Regions from separate parts of the Homo sapiens genome. Here regions 1 and 2 are each linked to region 3. Evidence: fine-mapped QTL for protein levels in blood plasma. A gene starts in region 3. Each other region holds a variant in brackets. All regions are shown on one strand. Distances are between the middles of the regions.

Region 1 (5,932 bases), 270 kb after region 3:
TACACTGCGATGCAGCAATCTTACTCCTGAGTTAATACCCAAGAGAATGAATATGTATGTCCTCTAAATAGTACGCACAAGAATGTTCATAGAGCCTTACTCATCACAGCCACAAGGTTAAAATAACCCAAGTGCCCATGGAAAGTAGAATGGTTAAGTTGTAGTTTATTCACACGATGAAATACTACAGCATCACGAAAAAGAACACACTCGAGCTCCCTGTAGCAACATGGATGGATCTCTCAGACACCTCGCGGTGAGAGACAGAGGCAGATACAGAAAAATTCACGGTTGTATTAGCTTTCTGCTGCCTCCTAACTAATGACCACAAACAGTCACTTGCAGCAATATATGTCTGTCCCCTGCTTTCCGTGGGTCAGAGCTCTGGTGTGGTGCAGCGAGGTCCAAGACTGCCCTCCAGATGTGGCTAGCCTGGGTTCCTCTCTGCAGCTCAGGCTCCTCATTCAAGCTCACCTGGATATTGGCAGAATTCATTATCTTGCTGGAGGATCGATGGGCTGTCTTTTTGCTATCAGCTCAGCTAGAGGCCACCAGTCGTCCCCTGCCTGGAGACTTGCTCACAGACTCTCCATTGCCAGCAAAGAGATCCCTTGTATGTGTAACATAATCATGAGAGGGACATGCCTTCACATTTGCCCAATCTATTGCTTGGAAGCAAGTCACACACTTAAGGTGGGGGGGATTATAGAGATCTGACTCATGGGAGACCTGGAGTATGTCTGCCATGGTACTGGATGGGTCTGTTTATATGAAGTTCAAAGATAGGCAAAACTAACCTATGGTGAAGGAGTCTGGATAGGGGTTCTCTGGGGGGCGAGGGGTGGGGTCAGAAGGAACCTTTGTTTTGTGGAGATTACACATGTATTTGTGTAGAAGTGTAAAGATGCATTCATTGAGCTGTGTGCCTAAGGATTGGGGACTGCATTGTATGTGAAGGAAATAAGAAGGAGAGAGGGAGAAGGGAAAGGAAAAAGGAAGGAAAGAAGGGAGGAGAGAGAGATCTATCTAAAAGCAGCTCTTAGTTTGTATGTTTTTTTGCAGAGAGGCAGGATGTCCCTCTGTATCTGCACGTTGGACACAGTGTATACGTCTCTTCATGGACACAGGAGACACCCATATCAGTTTTTGCTCTGGTGAGCTGGGGGCAGGTGCTGGAGGGAGGCCGACTTCATTGTATCCTTTTATGCATTTCTTGGATTTTTTTTTTACAACGAGCATATATTTTAATAATTAAAACATCTTAAAAAAAAAAAAAGGCCAGACAACTCAAAGGGTAAAGTGTACTTGGGGCGGCGGTGGCTGTGATATCAGAGCAATTGTCCCCACACCATCCCCACCTTATAGTGTGAAGTTGAGAGGTGAGTGCAGCTGTAAGTTGGGGAGACTGCTAGCATCTGTTCCAGGTTGGGGAAAGTCTCTTGTATTTTCCTCCTAGTGGCTGCAGCAAAGGGTCAGGTAGGGACACCACACCTGGGAATGCACACAGAGGAAGGTGAAACCAAGAAATAGATGCCTGGTGACATTATGGGAGTCCCCGGATTCAGCCCTGCCTGAAGCCAGACAGGGAAGCACATTGATGAATGTCCCTTGGGATGAAGCAAAGCCGGGTTTCAGCCAGCTTCCTCCGGTGCTGTCCTGCCCATGGTTTATGTCCGGTGTCTACTCTGACTGGCTGTTAAACATATACATATTTTTCAGTTTTTAAAGATGGAGTCACACTGTGTTGTCCAGGCTGGAGTCAACCTCCTGAATTCAAGTGATCCTCCCCCCTCAGCCTCCCAAGTAGCTGGGACTGCAGTCGCATGCCACTGCACCTAGCTTTGGCTGTTAAATGTTTAAATGTTTAAATATTTTAAACATTTTGGTGTTTATTCCTTGAGCCCAAAAAGCTCTGCCATCTGGATGGGGTCTCCAGGCCATGGGGCTTGGAGCTAGGTGCTGTGTGTTCAGGTCCAGCTCCTCCCTTCGCTGCCCTGCTGCCCCCTCCTCAGTGGGCCTGCGTCCCTGGGGCTGGTACCTGGCACACCACGTGCCCAGGAAGGGTGGGCAACTCGGTTGGCCTGGGCTTCTGAGGGCACAGGAGAGCTGGGCTGGTTCTGCCTGCGCATTTTCTGTGGAATGCAGACCATGCTGGCAACACCAGGGCCTCGGGACACCTCTGCTTCTGACGCAGGCCCAGGACAAGGGGTGATGCCCTGTGGTGAGCTGCAGCTGCTCCCAACCCAGGCCGGGTGGGCGGGTGCTTCAAGGCAGGCTTCCCAGAAGAGGAGGAGCCTGTGCGGGGGCTGGAGGAAGGTCAGCAGGGTGACCTCAGGGGAAATAAGTTGTTCCCTCTGTCTCCAGAACAGAGGAGCAGAACAAGCATCATGTGCAAAGCTCGTGGTGAACCGGGGAAAGCACAAAGCACCCCCGTGA[T/C]GGAGGGTGGGGGTAGGGTAGGAAGAGAGGCTGGCAGGGGGAGGGCGACTCTCTGCTTCCTCCGGGGGCCTCTGTGGCTCCGTCTGTGGCTGTCCAGAGCAGTTGCCAAGTATGCCCCTGGGGCCTGTCACTTCTTCATGCCTTGGTTTCCTCATCCATGTAAAGGGGGCAGTCGTGGCCCCTCCCCACCCACCCGGTGGTCAAGATGCCTTGGGGAACCTGGCATAGGGCCGGCCCTTCAAATTTCTTTGCTCTGGTCCTCACAGAGACCCCAGGGCCACGTGATTTGTGGTGTGGTCCCGAAAAGGCACTGAGGGATGGTGTCGGGAGGGGACCCCATGTTGCTGCCTTCAAACCCTGTGCTCCTTCAGATGAGCCCCCAGCTGCCATGGTGGCATTCCCCGCTGGGCCAGGGTTGCTCCATAGGGCTGAGGCAGAGTATGGCATGGCGGTTAGAAGAGATCCCCAAACTCCCACCCTCCCTTTCCAGCTCCACTCCCACCCATGCACCAACCCATCAATAGTGCAGGCTGCTGCAAAGAGGCATGCATGGGGCTGGGGGTGGGTAGGGGGCTCCCAGCAGGCTCTCCATGGCTGGGGCTGGAATCCAAGGCTAGCAGCTCAGGCCCCTGGAGGCAGCCTGCTGCTGGTCAGGTGGCAGATTGTGTTTTCCAAAGACTGCCTCCCCTGCACATCCGTCCTGCAGGGCTTTGCAATGCACAGTGGGCCTGTCACCCCTGCCAGAAGAGGGGGCTGTGCTCTGTTCCCTGGAGAGCCATGGGGCTTGTCACCAATCTGCCTGATGCAGCGTAGCCCAGCGGTGGTGCCCTCCAGGCTTCTGAGCCCCAAACCCCCGCTTCTCCTCCTCTGTACTTCCTCTCCCTGCCCCCCTGGATGGGAGCTGTGCATGGACACATAAGAAGGTCGGCTGCCCTGAAGCCACCATGCTGGAGAGGCTGTGGAAAGGCCCCACAGAGCTAGACAGAGCTGCCAAAGAGCCCCGCCCCAGGGGAGTCTTGCCAGACAGGTGGGTGAGGAGCTGCAGCCTGTGCAAGTCCCAGCTGAGGCCTCGGACACTGGGACAGAGACCAGCCTTTCCCACTGTCCTCTCTGAATTCCCTGCAGAGACCATAAGAGAGAAGAGCAGCTACTGGCTGAAGCCACTACATTTTAGGGCGACTTGTGATGCTGCAGCAACTGATAGCAACTGCACCCCCACAGCCCCTGATGGATGCTCTGCCTGGCACCAGGCTCTGTGCCCCTGAGAAGATGGGCTCCCTGGCTTGCAGAGCTGCTATTTGTGGGGCCGGAATAATAAACAGCTGAATGGACCAGAGACTATCAGTTGGTTAAATGGGACTGGGATGCATTTTCCATCAGGGAATCAATCGGGGCTCCTCTGAAGAGGTGATATGAGCTCTGAGGCCTGGAGAAGGAAGAGATGGCTCTGGGAGCTGGGACCAGGCAGCCCAGCCCAGGATTGCTGTGATGGCCTCTGCTGGGTATGGCCCCCAGAGGCCTGCTGGCCTGTGAGCTCTATGGGGGTGCACAGGGCACTGGTTCTGCCCAAGAGGAAACGCCAGCAGTGGAGTTGGTGCTGGTGTAAGAGCAACAGCAAAGGTATTTTTTTTAACTTTTTATATTGAAATAATGATAATCTGTAACAATTACAGATTCACAGGAAGTTGGAAAGATAATAGAGAGAGAAGCCTGTGTACCCTTCACCCAGTTTCCCCCAATGGTCACATTCTACATAACCACCACACATCAGAAAAGGGACATTGGCACTGGTGTGACAAGGGTGTCAAGCCCTGTGTCACTTTATCACACATGGAGATCCATGTTTCTGTCCCTGTAACCAGGATACAGAGCTGTTCCCTCTCCATGGAGACCCCCTGGTACTCCCTTTCACAGTGACAATCACCCCCCTACCCCAGCTCCTGGCAGCCGCCAATCTCCTCTCCATCTCTATGATTTTGTTATTTCAAAAATGTTATATAAATGGAATTATGCCATTTACATTTTCTGTAATTACTGACATAACTTCAGTCTGCTGTTTTATTTTTTGCTTTGTTTGTTCCTGTGTTTGTTGGTGGTGGTGTTTCTCTATTTTCTTTTTTTTGCCTTGCTGAGTGTTACTTGGACATATTTAAGCATCTATTTTGGTTTTTGTACAGTGTTTTTAGTGTATATCTTTGTATAGATTTCTAGTGGCTGCCATACTGCATTATACATATGTACTTATCACAGTCTACTGCCATCAACATTTTACCATTTCGAGTGACATGTAGAAAGCTTCCCTCTCTTTGTGTCCCTTTTCCCCTTCCATTTATAATATAATTATCCTAAATATTTTTTCTACATACATTGAGACATTCGACAATGCTATAATTTTTGCTTCAACCACCAAATGTAACTTAGAAACCTTCAGAGAAGGGGTCCATTGTATTTACCCATAGTTTTGCTCTTTCCATTGTACTTTCTTCCTGATGTCTCAAGATTCCTTCCTTATCACTTTCTTTCCATGAGAAGAACTTCCTTTGGCCCTCCTTTCACAGTAGGTTTGCTGGCAACAAACTTACTTTTCCCTTCACCTGAGAAGGTCTTGATTCCTCCTCATTCCTGAGGGATAGTTTCACTGGGTATAGAATTTATGGTTGACAGCTCTTTTCTTATGGCACTTAAAAACGTTCCACTTATTTCTTGCCTCCATGCTTTCTGATGAGACATCCATGTTTTTTGGAAGGTGGTTACGTGGCTGCTTTCAAAATTGGGGTTTGTTGTTGTTTAGTTTTTGGAAGTCTGACTGTGATATGTCTTGGTGTGGATTTCCTTGGGTTTATAACGTTTGGAGTTCATTCAGCTTCTTAAATCCTTACATTTATGTCTTTTGCCAAGTTTAGGAGATTGCTTCTTCAATATTTTTTCGGCTTTGTCCTCTTTCTCTTCTCCTCCTGGCAATTAGATGACATGAATATTAGATCTTTTGTTATCTCTCAGAGAACTCTTTTCTCCCACCCCTAGTCTATTTTCTCTCTGTTTCAGACTGGGTGGTTTATATTGCTCTATCTCCAGGTTCACTGCATCTTTCCTTTGTCCCCTCTGTTCTGCTTTGGAGTTATCGATTAAGTTTTTATTCTGATTATTGTATGTTTTTAAAAAATTCTAAAGTGTCCATTTGGTTCTCTTTATAACTTCTATTTCCTTGCTGAAACATTCTTTATTTTCATTTGTTTCAAGCATGTTCATAATTGCTCATCAAAGCACCTTTAGGATGGCTGCTTTAAAAGCCTCATCAGGTAATCCTGATATTCCTTCCTGTTCAACATATACCAGTATTGGTGTATGCTGATTGTATTTTCTGGTACAACTGACATTTCTCTGGTTCTTGCTATGACAGGTGATTTTCTTATTGGATCTTGAAAGTTTGGGGTATTGTATGTTGAGACTCTGGATTACATTTCAATCTTCTGTTTCACAGCTGGCCTCTCCTGAC
Region 2 (5,932 bases), 250 kb after region 3:
GTGAAATTTCTTCCAGTTGACATTTGCCTTCCATTCTGTCTCCTCATATTGTTCTGATAAGTCCCAGGAGAGAGAGGCTGTCATGGTCCCACGGGCGATACTGGCAAGGAGGGGATAGATTTCGCCATGGCCCAGTTTCTCCTAAACTGGGAGCCCACTGCGAGGTTTGCCCTCAAAATGCAGAGGCCCTTGTCCTGGGACCTGAAACTAAAGTAGGAGAAGCCAGTGAGGAGGGGACACAGCCAGGCTGACCATGGGGAGAGGGGCAAATGTGGCTGTGTCTTCCTGCACATCGCCATTCTGCAAAGTGTCGGCGTCTCTGTTGTGCCTCTGTAGAGGGCAGGGCTCAGCAGGTCAGCCCTCCAGCTCCATGAGGCTCAGCCACATGACTCAGGCTGGGGCCACTTAGCCTCCGCCTGTCCTGTCTATGGTACCTCTTTTCACATAGATCAGTAAGCCTCACAGAGTTACAGCTTAGGACAGCTCTGCCCTGACTAAGCCTGGGGCTTCCCCTGAGCCACTCACCATGACACACAGGTCCCCTCAGTGCCTGCTGGCCTCCACGGTGCAGCCAGGAACCAGGCTCACCAGGGCCCCATGAGGGCAGGGTGGGGTCCTGCTTCAGGGGAGTGCAGCAGAGGCTATGATGGAAGTCATGCTCTGGGGTCTCAGACTCTAGAGGGCCAGCACCGTCAGGAGGAACAGAAGACACAGCAAGAGGCTGGTATGAGGGGACAGCAGTATAGGTGACAAGAGAGAGCCCAGGGAGACTGGCAGTGCCACTGAAGGCACCCACTGCCCTGCAGATTTAACCCTGCCTGGGGAGGGGAGAGCACAGCCTTCTAAGGCTGGAGACTCAGGGAGCAGAACAGGAGGGGAGGCCTCTGCGATGGAGGCAGAGAGCCTGGCCTGTGACTTGAAAGTGCTCCTAAAACAGGTGTCAGAACACTCAGAACCAAAGCTGTATGTGCAGTCCCTGAGAACACCTGCCTGAGACGAAATGCCATGAGGCCAGCCGTCCCCCAAGGAAGAAGCAGCCTAAAAAGCCCACAACTAGACACACCCATGTCACAGTTCTTAAATACAGATGTGGAGCCGTGCTTAAGCACCTGGAGACAAATCAGGGGCTGCCCCAGACACCCCAGCTGTATTCTTGCCCCAGCCGCCTGTGCGGCAGCTGACGCAGGCCAGTGAAGCGGGTCTCCGGAGCTGGGCAGAGGACTGCACACCAGGGGCTCATCTGCCCTGCATATGTAAGAACGAGAAGTCAATGCAGATAAAACCCCCCCCACCCAGTCCTCTTCAGGAAATAAGAGGACCCTTTAAGACTTGGTGCATGCAATGCAGACTTGAGTCAGAATTGTGACCTCAATGGCTAGGATGGGGTGGAATTCAAGGACCCAGGCCAGGGCTGGGCCACCATGGCCTCCCCTGGCAGGAAGGGGAAGGCGTGCTCTCCCTTCACATCCTTTACCTTGGCGCTGGTGTGGCATGGCAGTCACAGGCGGCTGCACCCCACCCCACACTCATCCCTCCCCGTCTTTAATTTAGGGACTGTTCGTTTTGTTCATGCCCTGGGGATGGGTCTTGCTGGCCTTAGCTGAACATGGGACACTCACTGCTCATGTTAGCGATGGTGTTAGGCATGGGTATGTGACCTGGTCCTAGACAGTGAGTGGAGGAGAAACCTGGAGTGGGGTTTGAGGGGAGCATTGTCCCGCGTAGTCAGATGAGACAGCAGAGAGACCTGCTCCTCCCTGCTCCCTTTGACCTCTGCTGCAGAGAGGACTGCGCTGCATACAGTGGCCTGGGGATGACATGGACGAGAAGGGAAGACCAGACCCAGGTGGCATCACTGCTAAGTCAGCAGTGTACAGAAGTGTCCACCCGCAGACTTCCAGAGCAAGACAGCTAAATATGGGGTCCTGTTCCCAAGCTGTCGAGCATCCTGGTGCTGGTGGTTTCTAGCTGAGGAACTGTGTTCAAGTTATCGTTAGATGATAACGGCTCTGGAGACCCTGGTGGGAGAGCAACTGACCTACATATCTCTCTCTCCACGTACCTGGAGTGGAGCTGTGGCATGTGTGACAGTGATCCTTTCTATTGCTAAGAAACTTGAGGAATGGCTTTCTACATTTTTACAGCTCTTTTTGGTGCCCTCAGCCGTGAGTGGTGTTCAATTTGGAAAGGCTGTTAAGTGTTACAGTGGGTCCGTCTACAGCTGGGAAGGGTCCTGGCCTAAAACCCACTTAAGAAAACAAATGAGCAGCAACAGTACATCCAAAGCCATGTAAATAAATATGTCCCGCTCCTCCACTGTCCAGCTGCATGGCCTTAATTCTCTGAGCCTCAGTTTCCTCATTTGTGTGAACAGCATGATGAACGATAGTGTCTGCTACCAGAGCTGTAAGGAGCAGCACTGAGCACGCCCAGCAGCCGGAGGACAGCACCTGGCTGGCAGGGAGTGCACGAATGTGCTGTTGTGTGTGTCAGTGTGCGCACGAGAGAGAGAGAGAGAGAGAGAGAGAGAAATCTGGAAGGAGACCAACCAATCCAAAATTACGCTCAGGAGGCTGGGCCAGTGACTGACTTTAGTTTATCTATATTTGCTCTTTTTTTCCACAACTTTAGAAAGTGAACTTACTCACTTTTGTGGGTTCTAAAACTACTTTGAAAAAGAAAGAAAAAAATAGTAAATTACCCCCAAAATATTATAATGGTTACCTCTAAGAAGTAAAAAGAACATTTTTCATTTCTTTAGACATTTCTGTAGATTTCATTTTCCTTATTGCACGCATATTAGTTTTAAATCAGGAAAAAAAATAAGTCACATGGTTATAGTCACGGGTAAACCACAGGCACAGGAAAGCCCAGGAAAGCAGCTGACGGCTATCCTGGGCACAGTGGGGCGGGCTGTCTCAGGCATAAAGGGATGGCTATCCTGGGCACAGCGGGGCGGGTTGTCCTGGAGGCGGGCTGCACCATCCTCATGGGGGCCCTCCAGTGGGGCTTTCCTGTCTCCTGAGTGTACACAGGCCCCAGTGAAGGAGCCCGGTGTGGAGCCCCATACCACAGCATGTTTCAGTGTCTGCTATATTGTGAGCCTAAGCCACCCACCACAGGGCTTGACCCTGCGACCGTCCTCTCATTTCTAGAACGGGAAAGCACAGTGCTTCTCCTTGAGGGTTAAAAGGATGCTGCTGGGTGTCAGGGACTTAGCCTAGCGCCTGGGAGGTAGGTGGAGTGAATGTGAGTTGTTTCTCTCCCCTGCCTGCTGGCACCTGAGCCCCAGGCCTGCCTGCTCTTGTCTTCTGCAGGCCCCGCAGGGTGGAGCCCGTCTGCTCAGGGTTGCAGGCCCAGATTCTCCACTGC[T/C]ACCGAGATCGCCCGCATGAGGTGCTGCTGTGCTCGGACCTGGTCAAGGCATACCAGCGCTGCGTGAGCGCCGCCCACAAGGTAAGGCCTTGCCTGCCTCCCAGGTTTCCAAGGGCCTTGGGAGGTAGGCGAGGTACCTCTATCTAGCATTGGAGATCTCTGCCTGCCTTTTCCTGTTAGAATCAGATGCTCCACTTGGAGGTCTCTGCATTTGCCAAGGGAGGGATTCTTCGCTTTCCTCAGTCACCTGCACACTCTCCTGGCTGCTTCCAGGAGCGCCTTGGACATCTGGCCCCAGGGAGATGATCCCTGTTGCGTTTGCCCTATTAGGCTGGGTGGGAGCAGGCTGGGTAAAGTCAGGCCCCACCTTCAAGGGCCGGGCCCCTTGTGGGTGCCGGGGACTTCTTAGCCCTCGGCACTTAGGGGTGGGAGGGTGGCAGAGGCCCGAGTGCAGAGTGGGGGTCCCAGCAAGGATAGGCCATCTGGAAGAGGAGTGGGAGCAGATGTGGCCATCAGAAGCTGCTCACAGCCACCCTGCCCTGAGCTGGTCTACAGGGGTGTGCTGGCTTGGCCTTCCTGGTGAGTGGTCCCAAGCCTCATGTGCTCTCTGGTCACCTCCCACTCCAGTGGGCCTCGGTTGTCCTGGATGCCTGTGATGCGCTCCCAGCCAGCTCCTACTGCCTTCCTCCCCCACCCCCAACTGCTGCTCTCTATCCTAGATAAGTCCTCCCCCTTCCCAGGTCCCGTAGCGTCCTCTGGTGCAGTCAGGCTGTTCCCAGCCATACCTCACCCTTGCCCCACCCCAACAGGACAGCTCCCACCTTGGGGAGCATCATTCACTCTCAGAACACCTAGTTTGGGCTCCCCAAGGAGTGCGGCCTGTTTGTGAAAATGTATGGGAGAAACAACAGGACGAGGTCTCCTTTCCCACGTAAAAGCCTCTTTGGCCTGAGTAGGAGACAGGCTGCTTTAGGTACTTGGGATGGAAAAGGCTGAGGCCAGATGCTCTGTGCTCTCCAGCCATGTCCAAGGGGAGATCTGTCCCACTGAACTGAGCGGGGTCCTGCAGCCCCAGGCCTGCAAGAGCTTCCTTGGGTCATGCCCTGCTCACACCCATCTGCCAAGGCTGATTGTTCCACTCTTTGCTGGTCACAGCCCCGTCCAGCACCGACTGTCCCTTCATGGCCAGAACACAGCCCAGAAGTAGCTCCACACAGGATGAGTGGTCGCAAGGCCTCTGTCAGCCTTCCAAGAGAGGGAAGCCCTGGGTAGGACAGGCGGCCTCCTCCTCCATCTCAGAGGATGGAAGGCTGCTCACTCTGCTTCCACGTGGGCAGGAGGCGCTGGGGCACTGGGTAGGCTGGGCCAGACCAGGGCCCTTCGCACCGACCAGACACTTAGCTCCCTACTCACCAGCAAAGTGAAGCCTCCAGATCCTCCACACACCCAATCAAGGGCAGCTCCGAGTCTCTGTTCATCACACACCTAACTCTTTACCGAGGGATCTGCTGCAGCCTCTTGGCTTCCTGGCAGGGCCTACGCCTCAGTGGCCAGCCCTAGACTCCATCCTCTCTCCATCCAGCCCCACCTCTGTGGTAGTTTTCAGCCCCTACCCACCACCCCTAAGAGTATTTCTTTAACAAACACACCTCACCAATATATCTTCCTCGCACCAAGGCAAAAATGTGATTACCAAGGAAGACAGATCACATTAAACCCCAGTGTATTCCCTGAGAGAGGCTCTGGGACACTGCCAGGTCTGGCTCCCTCCTTCCCGGCCCCTACCCCTGACATGACTAGCAAAGAAACCAGAGACTGAGCAATGGCAGTGCCAGAGGCCTGCCTGCTCTCCCCACGTGCTGCCTTGGCAGTGTGTGTGCATTTGGAGACGGCATATTCAACCTGACTCCCTCGGAGCCCCAGCACCCAGGCACTTGGGTGGTGCCCTGTGTGTGAGATGTGGCAAGTGCTGGAGAAACTCTCACCACCCTTCGCCAGCCTTCGCCTCAGAAGGCTGCTGGCAGAACCAGAGAGCGGGGAGTGAAGGGTCCCTAAGAGGGATTTGCTTATGCAAGGGGCCAAACAGCAGGGGACAGAGGCCCACATGGTCAAGGGCCTTGGGGTGGGGCAGCACTGCTTCTCTCTCCAGGATCTAACATCTGCCCTGGGGCTCCTAGGGCAGGTAGGTGATGCCTAGGCCCAGAGCCTGGCACCTGCCTGTGTGCAGATGTGCTGGGCATCTCAGATGAGGACAGGGGCCTCAGGCTGTCCACCACAGGACCCTGACTGTGCGGACCCCAGCATCCCAGCAGGCTCCTGCTGAGCTGTGAAAAATCAGAGAACAGAGGGGAGGCCTTGATGAGGCAGAGCAGAGTTGGGTTAGACTCTTCTATATCCAGGGTGCTTGTCAGAAACACCGCAGCAGGTTGAGGGGGCAGGGGCAGGGGACCTGCCTTCTGAGCCAGCCCTGGGAGAGTAAAGGAAAGGGGAGCGGGTTCTGGTGTCACTGTCGTGTGGAGTGAGGGCCCGTCCCCTGTTGCTGGGGACTGTGCTGGGCTCC
Region 3 (5,932 bases):
GTTTCAGATCTCACATTTAAGTCTTCAATTCATTTTGAATGGATTTTTTATGTGGTGTAATACAAGGGTCCAATTTCCTTCTTTTGAATGTGGATATCCCGTATTTCCAGCTCCAATTATTGAAGAGACTTTCCTTTCTCCATAGTGTGTATATTCTCGGCACCATTATCAAACATTAGTAGACCATATATGCATGGGCTCTCTATTTTTCTGCATTGATCTATGTATCTATTTTTATGCCAGTACCATACTCTTTTGATTACTACAGCTTTGTAATATAGTTTGAAATCAGGGAGTATGATGCCTTCAGCTTTCTGCTTCTTTCTCAAGATTGCTTTGATGATTTGGGGTCTTTTGTGGTTCCATATGAAATGTTAGAATTGTTTTTTCTATTTATGTGAAAAATGTCATTAGAATTTTGATAATGATGACATTGAATGTGTAGATTACTTTGGGTAGTAAAGCCATTTTAACAATATTAATTCTTCTGATCTATAAACACAGGCTATCTTTCTACTTATTTATGTCTCCTATAGTATCTTTCAACAGTGTCTTATAATTTTTAGTGTGCAATTTTTTGTGTGCATCTTTCTTTCACCTCCTTGGTTAAATTTATTCATATTTTATTCTTTTTGGTGTTATTGTAAGTGGGATCATTTTCTTAATTTCTTTTTGAATAGTTTGTTGTCAGAAATCAGTAATAGGAAGAACTTTGGAAAATTCACACATGTGCGGAAATTAAACAACACATTCCTGAACAGCCAATGAGCCAAAGAATAAATCAAAAGGGGAATAAACAAGTATCTTGAGACAAATGAAAATGGAAACACAAGGTACCACAACTTATAGGATGCAATAGAAACATTTTTAAGAGGGAAGTTTATAGCGAAAAATACCTACATTAAGAAAAAAGAAAGACATCAAACAACCTAATTTTATATCTCAAGGAACTAGAAGAGGAACAAACTAAGCCCCAAAGTCAGCAGACTGAAGGAAATAAAAAAGATGAGAGCAGAAATAGAAACTAGAAAAACAACAGAAAAGATCAACAGTAAAGATCAACAAAATTAACAAACCTTAGCTAGACTAACCAAGAAAAAAGGTAATTCACATAAACAAAAGTATAAATGAAAGAGGAGACATTACAACTGATATCACAGAAATACAAAAGATCATAATCAACTACTATGAACAATTATACACCAAGAAACTGGATAATTTAGGAGAAATGGACGAATTCCCAGAAACATACCATCTATCCAAACTGAGTCTTGAAGAAACAGAAAATCTGAACAGACCAATAACGAGTAAGGAGATTGAATTAGTAATCATAAACCTCCAAGGAAAAGAGACAAAGGAAAGCCCAGGACCAGGTCTGACCACATCTTTACTCAGTTTTCCCCGCGGCCCCCGGTCCCCACCCCTCTTAGCCTGTCTCCCTAACTTCCTTTCTCCTGAGGTGCTCCCCCAGGAAACTCCTTGCACCAGAATCCCCTACGCAGGCTCTGCTTATAGGGAAGAAATGGACGACAGAGGTGATGGAGTGGGGTGCGCCAATGAAGTATTTTGAATGAAACTAGCAGACACCTTTGTTCCTAAAGATTCCATCGTCACACCAGCTCTGGGATGTTTACTAGCTTCTTCACCCTGAGCTATTCTCAATCTCAGAGCCTTACTGCTCTCTCTCAATCATTCTCTCCTCCTCACCCCTTTCTTTCCAGGTTGCCAATAGGAGCTCCAAATATTTTCTGGCTATTTCATGTAGCCATCTAGTTTTCCTCAGCTCGGCTTCAGGCGCACTTTTGCAAATCAAAGCCATTCAGCAACTCAGAGGAACAAAAAGGGGCTTATTTGAAGGTAGCAGTGTCTATGACTGGCAACCGTCTGTGTGCTCCCTTACACATAGGGTCCTGTGTAAGAAGCCTACACACAATGCCTGGCACACTGCACTCCACACATGGTATGTACACTCCTTGGGCAATGCCTCCTAACGGCTTAGGACCATTCCCTGTCCTCCCGGGGCGTTTAGAATAAAACCCACACTCAGACCCTGCCTCACAAGACCCGACATGATTTGGGTCCTCACCACTCCTCTGCCCTCTTCTCACTTTCCAGCCATGGGATGACCCCTCTTTCTCTTTTCCTGCCTGAGACTCCCAGGAAACCTCTTCCCCTACCTTTTTCTACATAAATCCTACTCTCCCGCCGGCTCAGTTCAAAGCTTCTTCCTCAGAGGTTGCTCTGGCCACTGAAATTAAAAGAGGCCTCCTTCTGTTCATTTTACTAGTGGCATCGCCATGCAGTTTTCCGTGTATTACAGTCAGTTTCCTTGCGTGCGTGTTTGGCTTTTCACTTGTTTTCCCCTTGCACTGTAAACCTCTCAAGGGCAGGACACTCGCTGTCTTGAGGGGCGCTGTAATGCCAGGGCCAGGTCCCTGCTCGTCTGGCGCTCAGCCCGTGCTGCTCTACACGTGTTTGCTGAATGAATGGAGCAGTGAACCCTCAGAAATTCGCCTCCAGATGAGCGCCTTGGCCGTCTCGGCGTCTCCTGGCCTCAGAACATCACCCTTGGCTCTCCCTCAAGGGGGAGCTCCCAAAGCGAGAACGTGACCCTGTCCTGCACCCAGCCCTCCACTCCAGGGCCTCCGCCGGTACACATCTTCGGCCTCAGCCTAACGCACTCTAGCAGGCACAGACCGCCACGCCCCCACCCCTCCAGACGGAAGGACTGCAATCCCCACAAGGCACCGCGACTCAGCGCCACCCGATTGGTGAAGCCTCTGGCGTCGGCCAATAGGACGTGGCTTTGTTGGCGTGTGCCGCGGCCGCGCGAGTCCTGGAAAGCGTTGTTGGCCCGGTTGCTCTGGAGCCGGGTCTCGGGTCTGGTGGCTGCCGGCCCTGCGGCATCTCGCCATGGGGAGCACGGAGAGCAGCGAGGGCCGCAGGGTGTCCTTCGGAGTGGACGAGGAGGAGCGGGTCCGGGTGCTGCAGGGTGTCCGGGTGAGCGGCGCCGCCTGGGCCGGGGCGGGCGTGGAGGCCGCGGGCGCGGGGGGGAGGTGCGGGGCGGAGCGCAGGGCCGGGGCTCTTTCCACGCGTGAGGGGCGTGGGGCTTGGGAGACTCCGGGGGCTCAGGCCAGGAAGAGGCTGAGCCGAGACGCGAGCCCGAGGCTGGCAGCCTTGGAGCTTCGCGACATGGGCTTCAGGGAAGGAGGAGTGAAGAACTGTACAGGTGCGAGGCCCCTGGGACACGAGGGACGCCCTGGCCACGTCCTGGCTCCGGTCGGCTTAGTTTTTACGTTTCTTGAATTTGCGCCCGGCCTCCCAGCCCGTGGCCCCTCAGGTGCGCGCATCTCGTTCTGGGTACGCGGTGTCTCCCACCTGGGCTTTGCCTGGGGACTCAGCTCTTCCCCGCCGGCCTGTTCTCCACAGCACATCTGCGGGGCGCAGGAAGAACCATAGCTCAGATCTGATCCCCTTCCTTGCCTGAAACCCTCCAGTGGGTTCCTAGCGCGCTTGGATGATGCCTTCCCTGGTTCCAAAGCTGGCCGCTGCCCGTCGACCTCTGGGGACTGCATCCCTCTGGGACTGCATCTCGTGCCATTTCCCTCGCGTGGCACCCGCACCTCGTCCCCAGCCTCAGGACCGCCGTGTTTTCCTGGAGGGTGCCGCTGGCTCAGCTCAGGGTCTGTGCGCCGGCTGTTCTCTCTCCTTCAGCTCTCCTTAAATCCCGCTGTTTCTTGTAATTCTTGTTGTAATTCAGATATCACCAGAGAATCCTTCCCTGACCACCCAATCTGAAGTAACCTCCCACCCCGCGTCCAACATTTATTATTTTCATAGCACTCATCACAGTGATCGCTTCTGTTGATAATTGTTTACTTGTTTATTGCGTTTACTGCTAGAGTGTAAGCTTTTTGAGGCTAAGGTTCCTGTCTGATTGAAGACTGTCCCCAGAACCCAGAAGAATAAAAGCAGCTCTTATTGCAGTGTAGGGGCCATGCGTTGGACTAAACCCTTTATAAGTTAACTGATTTAATTTTCAACAGCCCTATTTAGCCCATTATTGTAGATTAAGGAGAAGTGAGGCACTGAGAGGTGAACGAACTGATCCAAGATCATGTAAATAGTAAGTGGGAGAGCTGGGATTGAAACAAGCCAATTCCAGGGCATGTTGCTGTGCTCGGCCTCTTCCTCCACCTGTGTCTACACCTGCAGGTGCTTTGTAAGTAACTGTGGAGAGATGAATGAACCCAGTAAAAGGGACTAGGATTAAATGAAACGCACAGAGCTGGGTGTAGATGAATTAGTTAATTAAGGAGGAATTAGGGAGGTGGCTTAGAAAGACAGACTTCAGGAGTTCTGGCAGGTGCTCATTAGCTGTGTGACCTTGGGTAAAAAACTCTTTTGAGCCTCAATGGCCACATTAAAAAAAAAATTGGGTGTGTATGTATCCTAGGTACTGCCTAGGATAAGATGATGTCTGTGAAAGTGTTAAGGAAACGCACAGAGAGAGTGCTTTGTGGAGGCCTCTCTTCTTAGCCTAGCAGAGTACTTGGCACATTTGGTGCTTGCTAGGCGTTGTATAGTTTTGTGGACCTCACTCGTGGCAAGGATTAAATGGGGGAGGAGATGGCTTGTGTTGGAAGGCCGAGAGGGAGGAACCTGAATTGGAATTTAGAAAGATAAGCTTGGCTCTGTTTGGGTGCTCTCACCCTTGTGATTTGGTCTCCTGTTTTGGGGAATGTTGGAAAGTTAAGTTGGAGTCCTCAGAGGTTCAGGGGAGTGCCTTTGGGGGTGCCTTCTTTCAAGTTGATTGGAAACCTCATGTTTTTTGAGTATTATATAAGACAGGTACATTTCATTTCTAGTTCTCTTAAATACTTCTGCAACATATAAATTCTCTGTATTTAAAGATGGAGAATTGAGCTTAAAGGAGTTAAGGAATTTGCCCAAGGTGTTAACCTGAGTAACTTCTGGGACTTTAATTAAGATCTTTTCGGTGCAAAAAGCAACTTTTTCTCACTTCTGCAATTCCCCCCCATGATGTATGCAAGGCAGCCTGAAAATTTTGTGACAATACCCATACCTGTCCTGACAGGGATGATAGTGCCCCACTTAGTTTTAAAACTGGAAGGAACTTTGGTGACTGACTGCTTTCTTTTCCAGCTGGGCAAACTAATCAGAGAGGATAAATGACTTGTCCAGAGGTGCACAGTAAGGTGCACAGCCCCACGTTATGAGAGCCACGTCCTTCCTTCTGCTTGTGTTTGAAAGAGGAAAACTGAAGAAAGGAGGTGATGGTATGAAGAAAGGATGTTTTGGTGTAGAGGCTTTTTCTGTTAGCAGAGTTACTTGAGGGTTGAGGAATTCACCTTGTCTTTAGGCAAGTGAGTGAAAAAGATTGCCAGATCAACAAAACAGTTGCCAAAGGGAACAAATCAGTTCATTTAATGAGAAGCAGATGCCAAAGAAGATCTGCCCCAGCTTCTTTAGAGCAAGTTGAATATTCTTAATGACCATTTGTATTTAATTCCTGAGGCCTGGTCTTAGAAAGTGTTCTCGTCCCTGTAAGATTAAGTGTTAGTGGCTGGTAGTGGTGGCTCATGCCTGTAATTTCAGCACTTTGGGAGGCCGAAGTGGGCAGATCACCTGAGGTCAGGAGTTAAAGACCAGTCTGGCCAACATGGTGAAACCCTGCCTCTACCAAAAATACAAAAGTTAGCTGGGCATGGTGGCACACACCTGTACACCCAGCTACTTGGGAGGCTGAGGTAGGAGAATCCTTGAACCCAGGAGGGGGAGGTTGCAGTGAGCCGAGATTATGCCAGTGTCCTCCAGCCTGGGTGACAGAGACTCCGTCTTAAAAAAAAAAAAAAAAAAGATTAAGTGCTAGGCCTTGCTAGTTTACATACTTAGTTTGCATAAATTCACA

Direction of the effects. Alleles are on the strand shown, and positions count from the first base shown. The strength of an association depends on the size of the effect and on how common the allele is.
For the plasma level of the protein whose gene starts at base 2,841 in region 3, allele T in region 1 goes with a lower level than allele C (weak association).
With allele T in place of C in region 2, the plasma level of the protein whose gene starts at base 2,841 in region 3 is higher (weak association).

What was found. A credible set is the group of variants that fine-mapping cannot tell apart. PIP is the posterior inclusion probability: the model's chance that the variant is causal. Protein levels are from antibody-based Olink assays in UK Biobank. Linkage for the fine-mapping came from a reference panel and not from the study's own genotypes, which makes the PIPs less certain.
Region 1: its variant is the best candidate, but not a certain one, in a credible set for the plasma level of the CHCHD6 protein (UK Biobank, PIP 0.76).
Region 2: its variant is the best candidate, but not a certain one, in a credible set for the plasma level of the CHCHD6 protein (UK Biobank, PIP 0.62). The variant lies in the coding sequence of CHCHD6. If it changes the protein, the assay may bind it differently, which can mimic a change of level.

Annotation. Positions count from the first base shown.
Region 1 is chr3:126,969,829-126,975,760 of GRCh38, forward strand. No RefSeq gene overlaps it. Among named protein-coding and RNA genes, the nearest start is that of PLXNA1, 10 kb to the right of the region's middle. The variant T/C (reference allele first, on the strand shown) is at 2,437.
Region 2 is chr3:126,954,099-126,960,030 of GRCh38, forward strand. It overlaps CHCHD6 (coiled-coil-helix-coiled-coil-helix domain containing 6), which reads left to right. Exons shown (of 8, transcript NM_032343.3): 7 at 3,318-3,453. Among named protein-coding and RNA genes, the nearest start is that of PLXNA1, 26 kb to the right of the region's middle. RefSeq lists enhancers at 533-622, 5,812-5,932. The variant T/C (reference allele first, on the strand shown) is at 3,373.
Region 3 is chr3:126,701,400-126,707,331 of GRCh38, forward strand. CHCHD6 (coiled-coil-helix-coiled-coil-helix domain containing 6) reads left to right here and starts at 2,841. Exons shown (of 8, transcript NM_032343.3): 1 at 2,841-3,000. The coding sequence starts at 2,914. RefSeq lists enhancers at 2,421-2,480, 3,541-4,092 and a silencer at 3,031-3,230.